Linked DNA regions of Homo sapiens: region 1 is linked to region 2. The links come from fine-mapping of genetic effects on gene expression. A gene starts in region 2. The other region holds a variant in brackets. All regions are shown on one strand. Distances are between the middles of the regions. Region 1 has its middle 6.5 kb from the start of KCP. Region 2 holds the start of SPMIP1 (sperm microtubule inner protein 1).

The links. PIP is the estimated chance that this variant, and not a neighbour inherited with it, causes the effect.
Region 1: its variant is the best candidate, but not a certain one, in a credible set for the expression of SPMIP1 in visceral fat (GTEx, PIP 0.85).

Annotation. Positions count from the first base shown.
Region 1 is chr7:128,914,564-128,919,930 of GRCh38, forward strand. No RefSeq gene overlaps it. Among named protein-coding and RNA genes, the nearest start is that of KCP, 6.5 kb to the left of the region's middle. The variant T/C (reference allele first, on the strand shown) is at 2,753.
Region 2 is chr7:128,863,600-128,868,966 of GRCh38, forward strand. SPMIP1 (sperm microtubule inner protein 1) reads left to right here and starts at 2,731. Exons shown (of 2, transcript NM_001195150.3): 1 at 2,731-3,231; 2 at 5,067-5,367. The coding sequence starts at 2,811. The coding sequence ends at 5,176. It overlaps ATP6V1F (ATPase H+ transporting V1 subunit F), which reads left to right. Exons shown (of 2, transcript NM_004231.4): 2 at 1,778-2,248. The coding sequence ends at 1,979.

The DNA of each region.
Region 1 (5,367 bases), 51 kb after region 2:
GGGCTCCCGACGGGCTGGTAAAATCTCACAGCCAACCCCAGGGCCCCAGTGGAGTCCCAGGCGACAGTCCCCTCACTCCAGGAGCTGCAAGGCTTTGGTACCAGGGGGCTGCTAGGGGAGGAAGTGCCACAGCAGTCCTAGTAAGAGTGGCCAGACGGCAGGCGCCCTGCTGCCTCCAGGGTTGTTCTGGGTCGCATGTCTCCTTGCAAACCCACACCCAGCTCAGGGAGAGGACAAAGGTTTTGCTGCATTGGGCCTGATCCTAAATCCCACCCCTCCAGGTGAGCTGTCCACACCCCAGGCCCTGCTGCTTGCCTGGTCCAAACAGGCTGAGGCTCTGGGGCAGCAGGTGCCCAGAAAGAAGCTTCTTTCGGCTTCCTCCGAGAGGCAAGGTGGGGGAAGACCAGGGTACAGGGGGAAAACCCCCAAGTAGGGCCTTCAGATGAAAGGGGGTGATTTCCCAGTGACTCCCTAGACTCTTGGATCCCCTCAGCCCCAGCCCCAGGCCCGACAGCTACGGGGTAGGGGGAGGATGGAGGTAGGGGGAGGGGAGGTCTTGACAGTTTTCTCTGTGGACACAGCCGGTGCACTTTCAGGCCCTGGGGACTGGGTCCACGGGGGCCCAGGCCCACTCCAGTCCTCTGCCCCCGCTCCCCGCTTCCCCTCCGCCCCCCTCCCCCCTCCCCTCCGCCCCCACCCCTCCCGCTGGCTCCGCGGGGGCACACCCCCTGGGCCAGCCCGTGGAGCCACCCTCACCCCCAGGGACGCTCCTCGGCTGCTAGAGCAGCACCCCGGTCCTCGCCCTGCTGTGTCCAGCGGGGCCGCGAGGCTGGGGAAAGTCCCCCACTCCCGCCTCTGCTCCCGGGCACCTGCTCCCGCCCTCCCGGGTCCGGAGACAACCGCTCAAGGCCAGCGCTGGTCCTCGCCATCTTCCTCCAAATCCCAGCCATGCTAGTCTCACTTTTCCTCCACGTTCAGCCTCTTCATTGTTGCCTTCTTAAGTTCTGGGACAAGACCTACAGAAACCAGCCCAGGAACTATTGCGCCCCATCCTTCTCCGCTGCTCTGGGGGCCGGCGTCTACCATTCCCGGCCGCGAGCCCAGGGACGGACGGAGCCTCTACCTGACACTATCTTCCCCCAAACTCTTGCACAATTCCTGCCATTGGCCTGAAGATCCCGGGGGATGAACGCTTTAAACCTCCACCTTTTTTTCCGAAAGGGTTAGGGTGACCCGGGAAGAGCGAGGGCGAGTGCATCGAAAGTAAGGATCGGGCCTCGCTCCTCTGTGGACCAAGCCAGCCTCCAGCAGGGCGCCTGGGAGCCCCCATTCTGGGCGATGGCGGGGTGGGGGTGGGGGGGTGGGAGCAGCAGAGCCTGCGCCCCCAGCTGCGGTGCCGACCTCGCCGCCTGGGCCTTGGGGTTCCCTGGGCGCCAGCACCTCAAACGGATCGGGGCGTGAGGGGCGCCTGGGAGGTCCCAGGCCGGCGGGGCGCGCCCTGCTGTAGGCACCCACCGAAGCTCGGTCTCCAGGCGCAGCTGGACGCGGACCCCGCCCTACTCCAGTCTTCATCCGGTCGCCCGCAGGTGCCTGAGGGGCGCGGGCCCTGGTTGAGGCCTAGACTTGTGGGTGGGCAACAGCCGGTACCGCTCCCACCACCTTCCGGACGCGGGGACGCGGGGACGCGGGGACGCGGAGAGGAGAGAGCGGCGGCCGGGACCCACCTGTCTGCGATGCTCCTGCGTGGCTGCGCCCTTGAGCACTGGTGGGGCGGCGGGGCCGAGCTGACTCTGCCCGGGCTGCGCTGGGTTCTTCTGCACCGCGCCGGCCCCGACCGGAGGGACCACTCGAGGAGGCTGGCACTTACCGGTGACTACTGACCTGGAGGGAGCATTGGGCCAGGCCCAGGGCCTGTAAGGAGACGCCAGACAGATAGCGCGGTGGCCTAGACGACCACTGGGCTTCTTCGGCAGTCTGGAACAGGGAAATAGTAATTCCATAACCTCAAATTCCGCTCCGCGCCCCGCCCCCCGACTCCCCCCAGCTCTGAAGGGTCCGCAGGTCTTCCCCAGTCCATGCTATCGTTGAGCTCTGGCACCTGAAAGAGATGGTTTCCCGGGTCAAGAGCATTAGGATGCCAGGTGGTGGCTTGCGCCTGTAATCTCAGCACTTTGGGAAGGCCAGGCAGGAGGATTGCTTGAGTCCAGAAGCTGACCAGCATGGGCAACATAAGGAGACCCAGTCCCTACAAAAATAATAAAAAGAAATTAGCCAGGCGTCATGGTGAGCGCCTGCAGTCCCAAGCTACTCTGGAGGCTGAGGCGGGAGGATCACTTGAGATGGGGAGGTCGAGACTGCAGTGAGCCATGATGGAGCCACTGTATTCTAGCCTGGGCAATACATTGAGAACCTGTCTCAAACAAAACAAAACAAAAAACATCAAGAGACGACTCGGGTTGGGGCAGGATGTCTCTTTTCTGCCTTTACACAGAGGGTAGCCCACATCCACAGAGCCAACTCATCCTCTTGCCCCTATGACATGTCCCCGCCTGGGCTGAGGTTTTGCTTCCAGAGGCCCTGCCCTCCAGGGCTCTGATGCCTGTGCAGCCACCTCAGTCTGCTCCCACAGGAAGGGACCATCACTTGCAACCAGAAGCCATGCCCAAGAGGACCCTGCCCTGAGCCAGGAGCATGCTGCCTGCACTGTGAGCCAGGTCAGCCTCCTGCCAGCCTCAGCCCCATCTCCTGCATG[T/C]CCACAGCCACGGCCTGCCACCTGAGAGTCAGCGAGCCTGGGACATGCCCAGGGGTGCCTACCCACTCACTCCTGACAGTGGCCAGGGGAGTGCAGAACCCATACACAAGTCAGCAGATACTGGCTCTGGCCTGGGACTGAGCCAGAGACCATGGGGAAACAGGCACAAAATCTTTTTCCTGCCCTCAGGGAGCCTCCAATCTAGTTGAGAAGATAAGCTCATAGCCAAGCTACCACAAGATTGAAGACCCAATGAGCAGATTAAGAGGAGGTGTAGAAGGCAGTGCAGTGTGTATTTTGCCAGAGGAGGGCACAGGAGGCAGGGGAAGCCCGTCGAGGCTGGGCAGTCAGGGGGCCTTTACAGACAATGGGTCCTTTGAGCTGGGTCTTCATGGGAAAGTGGGGTTCCACCTGAAGGAGAAGGAGTACGTGAGGGTCCTCTGGGCACAAGGACAGGGTGGAGAGAGGTGGGTTGCAGGAAGTCCATGTGGGAAGGCCAGTGGGAACAGGCTGCTGTAAGCCTTGCAATTAGGACTTTTTTCTATGGGCAGTGGGGGGTATTGAAGGCTGAAGCAGCCTGTGGCATGGTCAAGGGGGCGCTTGAGGAATATTCACCTGGTGGGGGCTAGATGCAGACAGAGGCGTCGGGGCTGTGACAGCAGTTGTCTAGGCATGGAGCCAGGGATGGCAGTGGGCTGGAGAAAGGGGGATGTTTCTAAAGGACGGGCAGGAGCCGGTGACTGGCTGGATCCCCTGGAATAGTGGAGGCCGAGCTTGGGACACTAGGATAGCAGTGGTGCCAGGGACATGAAGAGAGCTGGGAGGAAGAGGAGGTCATGGCTATGCAGGGAGGTGTTACTGGCTCATGGCGGGATAGGGTTGCCAGATTTAGCAAATAAAAATGCAGAATGTCCTGTTAAATTTGAATTTCAAATAAACAGCACAATTTTTTAGCATAAGCTCAGAGTCACAGTGGGAATAAGCTGTAGAGAATGGAATCAATTTGAGGTCCTTAGGATCCTGGGGCCTGGCCAGGCCTGTCCACACTGACCTCCAGCCAAGTAGCCTGGCCCTATCCTTGGCACGACCTACTAGGTGTTCTCCCTAGAAATGTTATCGTCATGAGAAGTCCTAGCCTCCTCGCCATCCCTGGTCACTGTGACTCTCAGCTGCTTCTTGCCCAGCTCACCCCCTGCTCTGCCCAGTCCCACACCCCAGCACCCCCACCTGCCCTCTTCATGCCTCTGTCAGAGCCCCTGAATATTGCTGGACAGCATCTCACCACTCCATTGCTTCCATGGCAGACTCGTGGCCACAAATATCAATGAGCACTGGACATTGCCAGAAATCCTCCTACAATCTCTTGGCAAATCGTTCTCCCCCTCCCTGAGAGGAGCATTTTTTTTTTAACCTTCCAATGGTTCTGCCCCTTACTTGCCATATGATCTTGGCAAGTTATTGAACCTAAGTCTCAGGTCCTCCCCTACGAAACAGGGGTAATAAGAGCACTTCTGTCTTTGCTCTCGTTAAGGATTGTCAGACTGGGTGTGATGGCTCATGCCTGTAATCCCAGCACTTTGGGAAGCTGTGGTGGGTGGATCACCTGAAGTCAGGAGTTCGAGACCAACCTGGCCAACATGGCGAAACTCTGTCTCTATTAAAAATACAAAAAGTAGCCGGGTGTGGTGGCGGGCACCTGTAATCCCAGCTACTTGGGAGGCTGAGGCAGGAGAATCACTTGAACCCAGAAGATGGAGGTTGCAGTGAGCCGAGATTAGTGCCACTACACTCCAGCCTGGGTGACAGAGTGAGACTGTCTCAAAAACAAAACAAAACAAAAACAACAACAAACAAACAAATAAAAAACGATTGTCTTAGCCTGGGTTCCTGGAAATCAGAGCCTGAGACAAAGGCTTGCATGCAGGCTGATTTTGGAATATGATCCCCAGGAGCAGGAGGGAGGATTGGAAGTGTGAAACTGGGAAGGATGGAGAGCCAATACAAGGGTGCATTATGCAATGGAGCCGACCACTGCGGTGGGCATCAGCATCCGGTCCTGCAGGACCTGGGGAGCCATGTGAAAGGCAGGCAGGCAGTAGAAGCCATCGGCACTGGGAGGCCCCCAGGGCATTAGCTTGCTCCCAGTTATGCATGAGCCAGTGCCCACATGGGTTCCCGAGGGTATCCAATGCTGTGCATCAGAGAAATTCCAAAATGAGAGAGGTAGATTTGCAGCCAGGACCTCAGGAGAGACGCTGTCAGGGTGCACTGTGTGGAGCTGCTTGCAAACTGTGTACAACTGGAATGAGGTACAGCTGAGAGGATTTGCATAAGAGATGGCCAGCACAGGTGTTAAGTAGGATAATACACACAGAAAACTTTTTACAGTGCCCAGCACATTTTAAGCACCACAATCTGTTATTATTTTCATTGTCATAATCATCATCTCCCTCTGAGGTCCAAACCGAAAAGTCAATGTTAACATTTTTTAAAAATCTGCAACAGAAGGTAAAGAAGCTTCTGGAAAACTCACCCTATAAAGTGAAAGCCCAGGGCCCTGAGGAAAGGGTGTTATTTGCAAGGCACTTGAGTTCCACAGTTGAGTATGATCACTG
Region 2 (5,367 bases):
TGAGAGCCTTCTGCTAAGACCTTGCACTCAAGCCCTCACTGCCTGCCTTAGGTCAGAGTGTGGGTGCAGGCATGCTTTTAATCCACCAGGGGTCCTGGTGACTGGAATTAAGGATACCAGCCTCCTATTTTATTCCTCACCCCTTCTCCAGGGCCCCTGTACCAAGTCTCAGGAATAAACCACTCACCTGTTTCCCCCAAACAGTCCAGCCCAGGGCTGCTGGCTGAGACTGGTTCCTGCTGCCTGGTGTATTAGGTAGTCCCTGACCTGGGAGGCTGTTATCTGCCATTCTCTAAGCTGTCTGGTAAAGTGACCCAAGTTATCATGGGAGAAGGACAAATTTTACTTCAAGAATTTTTTATGTTTCCAACCAAAAGGGACCTCAGAGATCAAATCTAACCCAGTGACTGGCAGGGGGTGGGTGCTCAGTAAGTAATTTTTAATCAGTAAATAAACGAATGAGTCTGGGTGCAGTGGCTCACGCCTGTAATCCCAACAGTTTTGGAGGCCGAGGCGGGTGGATCACCTGAGCTCGGGAGTTTGAGACTAGCCTGACCAATATGGTGAAACCCCATTTCTACTAAAAATACAAAAATTAGCCAGGCGTGGTGGCGGGTGCCTGTAATCCCAAGAAATCAGGAGGCTGAGGAAGGAGAATTGTTTGAACCTGGGAGGTGGAGACTGCAGTGAGCCGAGATCCACCACTGCACTCCAGCCTGGGTGACAGAGGGAGACCCTGTCTCAAAAAAATAAAAATAAAATAAACAAATGAATGGGTGGGTGACCACAGGAGAGAAGGAGCACAAGGCCAGGTTCTTTTTGTGCAGAAAGTGTGATTCCTTCATCAAGGTGTCCTCTTCCTAGCTTGTGATCTTAGTTCATGCCAAACTTTCCCTCTGACCCCTCCACCACCCTCATCAGGATAGACCTTGAGGCCTTCAGTGGTCTCATCAGCCCTATTTTTAAATAATTTGTTTTCTTTTTAAAAGTTAATGTGTCTTTTTTTTTTTTTTTTTCTGAGACAGGGTCTCACTCCTGTCACCCAGGCTGGATTGCAGTGGCGTGATCGCAGCTCACTGCGGCCTCGACTTCCCAGGCTCAAGTGATTCTCCCACCTCAGCTTCCTAAATAGCTAGGACTACAGCTTCCCAAGTAGCTGGCACATGCCGCCACATCCAGCCATTTTTTTTTTGTGTGTATATATATAGATAGATAGATAGATCCGCCACATCCAGCCATTTTTTTGTGTGTGTATATATAGATAGAGAGAGAGAGAGAGAGAGAGGGAGATGGGGGTCTCACTATGTGGCCCATTCTGGTCTCAAACTCCTGGGTTCAAGCAATCCACCTGCCTCGGCCTCCCAAAGTGCTGGGATTACAGGCGTGAGCCATCACAGCTGGCCTTCAGTATCTGCACATAAAAAGGGATCTGCATACATATAATCTTATCCTTCCCCTTTCTGACACATCACTGCATATTGAATACACCAGTGTGCACCCTAATCAATCTTCATTACCAGTTCACTTGGAAGCCTTCCGGGCAGTGTTGTAGAAGCCAACCCTAATCAGCGTGACCCTCCGCTTTGGGATGAAATTGATTCTAGGTAGGGTTGACAGAGGGTTGAGCGTGGCAGCCTTTCCCCTTGTCCTCTGTGCCCTCTGGGTCATGCTCATTCCCCTCCACAGCCCAGCCCAACAACTCGGAGAGGGCTGCCTGGGTAGGAGAGACGGCAGCCCCCAGAGCTGTCCTGGACTCCCTTCTCATCTCTCCCCACAGGCAATTTCTAAACCGGGATGACATTGGCATCATCCTCATCAACCAGTACATCGCAGAGATGGTGCGGCATGCCCTGGACGCCCACCAGCAGTCCATCCCCGCTGTCCTGGAGATCCCCTCCAAGGAGCACCCATATGACGCCGCCAAGGACTCCATCCTGCGCAGGGCCAGGGGCATGTTCACTGCCGAAGACCTGCGCTAGGGGACTCCTCATAGCCCTCAGCCCTTCCCTCGTTTCCAGGCCTCTCCCCAGGCTTGCCATCAGCCTTCTTTACTTTTTGAGCCTCTGATTTCCAATTCCCTGCTCCTTCCCACTCCATTAAGAGGCTAGGTGAGGCGCTTCTAGGTTGCTGGGGCTCTGCTGGTTAAGGAACAGGAAGCCTGACCATCTCCCTCCACTACCTCTTCCCTGTGCTGTTACACAGTGTCATTGTTGATGTTAAATTAAAGTCATATTCTTGCTTCTCTCCAGATGGGTTGGGTGCTGGAAAGGACATGTGTGGGGTGAGGCCATGGGGCAGATTCGGTTGGCAAGGATGGAAAAGGTGCTGCCAAAGACAGGCATAGAAGAGGTGGCCCAGGAGGATTGTGCCGGGAGGCAGAACTCAAGGACTGGTCCTTGGATCAGAGAAGACCAGCTCTGGTCTGGGGAGGAATGGGAGGAGGCTTGAGCCCAGCTCCTGCTTCCCCCACCTTGCTCGGCATTGGGCTGGGAAGGGGGCCAGATCCAAAGGACAGAAGCAGAAAGCACACGAAACCTGGGAGTCTGTGATGCCAGATCCCGCGAGGGCCCTGCGGGAGTTTTGGGGGGAGCAGGGCTCTTAACCAGTGGGCCCTGGCCTCAGGCTGCCTCAGGAAGCCAGGCTCATGGGGTCTGCTGGGGGCATGGCAAGTAGAACCCTGGCCCTGTGTGAGGTGAGGCATGGTTGCCAGGTGACTGTGCCTGGGCAGCCACTCGCCGTCAGAAGCACTCTGCTTGCTGTGCTCACCCCTCAGCTGTGGCCACCCTGGTGCCACTCCTTCCCTGGCCACCATGTCACGGCAGCTCAACATAGACGCGTTACGGCAGAACTTCTGGAAGGAGGAATATCTGAGGGAAAAGATGTTGCGCTGTGAATGGTACCGCAAGTATGGGTCGATGGTGAAGGCCAAGCAGAAGGCTAAGGCTGCAGCCCGCCTGCCCCTCAAACTGCCCACCCTGCACCCCAAAGCCCCACTCTCACCCCCACCCGCCCCCAAGTCAGCCCCTTCCAAGGTGCCCAGCCCTGTCCCAGAGGCGCCTTTTCAGTCGGAAATGTACCCGGTACCACCTATCACCCGAGCCCTGCTGTATGAAGGCATCTCCCACGACTTCCAGGGGCGGTACCGCTACCTCAACACTCGAAAACTGGACATGCCAGAGACGCGATACCTCTTCCCCATCACCACCAGCTTCACGTATGGCTGGCAGCTGGGTGAGCCCAACCTCTTGGAAATCACCTCAAAAACAGAGCACTAGCCATGTGCTAGGGAGTGGGCATCCTGGTGAAGGGTCCAGACTATAAACAGAGCAAGGAGATGGCCAAGAAGTGTCGACACGTTCCACAGAACTAGGGAGTGGCGGTGGGCAGGGAGGCAGCGGCCACGTGCTGCTATTTATTGGATTGTCAGGAAAGGCCTTTCTGAGGACCCGAGGCTGAGAGCCAGATGATAAGGATGGGTTTGGATTTTATTTGTTGTGCAGGGAAGCTGATGGAGGGTTCTAAGCAGATTTCAAGAGTGACACTGGTGAACCTTTTAAAAAGTCACCCTGACCTGTATGTAGGCAGTGGCTTTTTCAGGGGAAATGGTAGAATCTGGCACATGAGTTGGGCATCTGTTTGGTTATCCTGTGGTAGTGGCCTGAGGGATCAGCAATAGAGCTGAAATCAATTCAGGATGTTTTGGGGGAAGACTCGGTGGAACTCACCCATGGATAGAATGTGAGAATAAGGGGAAGAGAGATCAATCACCCAGGTGTTTGTTTAGCTAAAGCTGCAGTGACAGGGAAGACTGGGAGAGGTCAGGGCTGGAGCGTGCATGAACAGGTCCTATTTAGCCATGTGTGTTTGGCTATGTTATGCTTGAAGTGTCTGTAGGGTGGCTGTGTCTATAAGTCTGGATTGAAGTCAGAGCTGAAGATGCAAATTCGGAGGTCATTGGAATATAGGTGCTTTTTTTTTTTCTTTTTCTTTTTGAAACAGTCTGACTCTGTCACCCAGGCTGGAATGCAGTGGCACGATCTTGGCTCACTGCAACCTCTGCCTCCCAGGTTCAAGAGATTCTTCTGCCTCAGCCTCCCGAGTAGCTGGGACTGCAGGCGTGTGTCACCACGCCCAGCTAATTTTTGTTTTTTTAGTAGAGACAGGGTTTCACCATATTGGCCAGGCTGGTCTCGAACTGCTGACCTCGTAATCTGCCTGTCTCGGCCTCCCAAAGTTCTGGGATTACAGGCATGAGCCACCGGCTGGCCTATAGGTGCTATTTAAATCCATGAGATCTCCTAGGGAGCTCAAGTTGCTGGAATCTGATGGGAGTGGGGGCAGGAGGGCTGAGCCAGAGCGGGTAGGGGATGTCATTGGCAGGAAGCCTGTCCATCTCGGCTGAGTCTTTTTTCTGTGAGGTTGAGTCAAGGCCATCAGCGGGGAGGGAGCTGAGCTGAGGCAGTGGAGTAACTAGAGATGAAGAGGAAAGGTGTGGAACAGGCATGTGCCAGGCAGGGCTGCTGGGCGATGTTGCTGCACGTCCCATTGCTGTCTGTGCTCATGAATGTCAAGTGAGACTCCTCAGCCCTGTACCCTTCTCCAGCTGCTTGAGTGTCTTGCAGAAAAGGTGGATGGTTGGGGATTGACTCAGTTGAGATTTTGCCCCCAAACATCCCTTTCCCCCAGGCCCCTAAAGGGGAAGTCAGGGAAATAACTTTCTAACAAAAGCAGGAGGCGAGCCCTAGAAGCGGGGAGCAGGAGGCCGAAGGAAATCTCATCTCTCCACAGTCTGTCCCTGTGACAAGCAGGCTAGGGTGGCCCCCCTCCCTGCAGGTAGAGGATCCTGAAGCTAGGGTAATGATGGCAGATGGCTGCTGTATCCTGGCATCCAGCCAGCTCCCAGTATTTGCCCATAGCTCCCATTCCTCCAAAGCACTTTCTATTTCTTCCCACAAAGTGGCTACTCCACTGACGGATTCCTAGGGCTGTGCAGACAGACAGGGCTCCCATGCTCTGCGTGTCCCTCCCTCAGGAACCCATGCTTGGCCTCTGACATCTTTTCCCAGGCCCCCCAGTGAAGCAAGAACTGGTCTCCTGCAAGATGTGCCGCATTGAGTCATTCTTCCGCAAGAACGGGGCCTTCGCACTGCTTGATCCCCGAGACCTGGCCCTCTGACCGTGGGCCAGGTGTGGGCTTAGGGGAGGGAAGAAGAAATAACAGGCCTCCTGGTGGGGCAAAGCTGCTGTGTGTGTCTGTGCCCCTCTGCTCTCCCTGTCCCTGAGGTTGCATTCAGGCCTTTCTGAAACTATCAGACCTGCAAGTTGCCCTCTTGCTTTTTCCGTAACCCTCATCACTTTAATCATCCC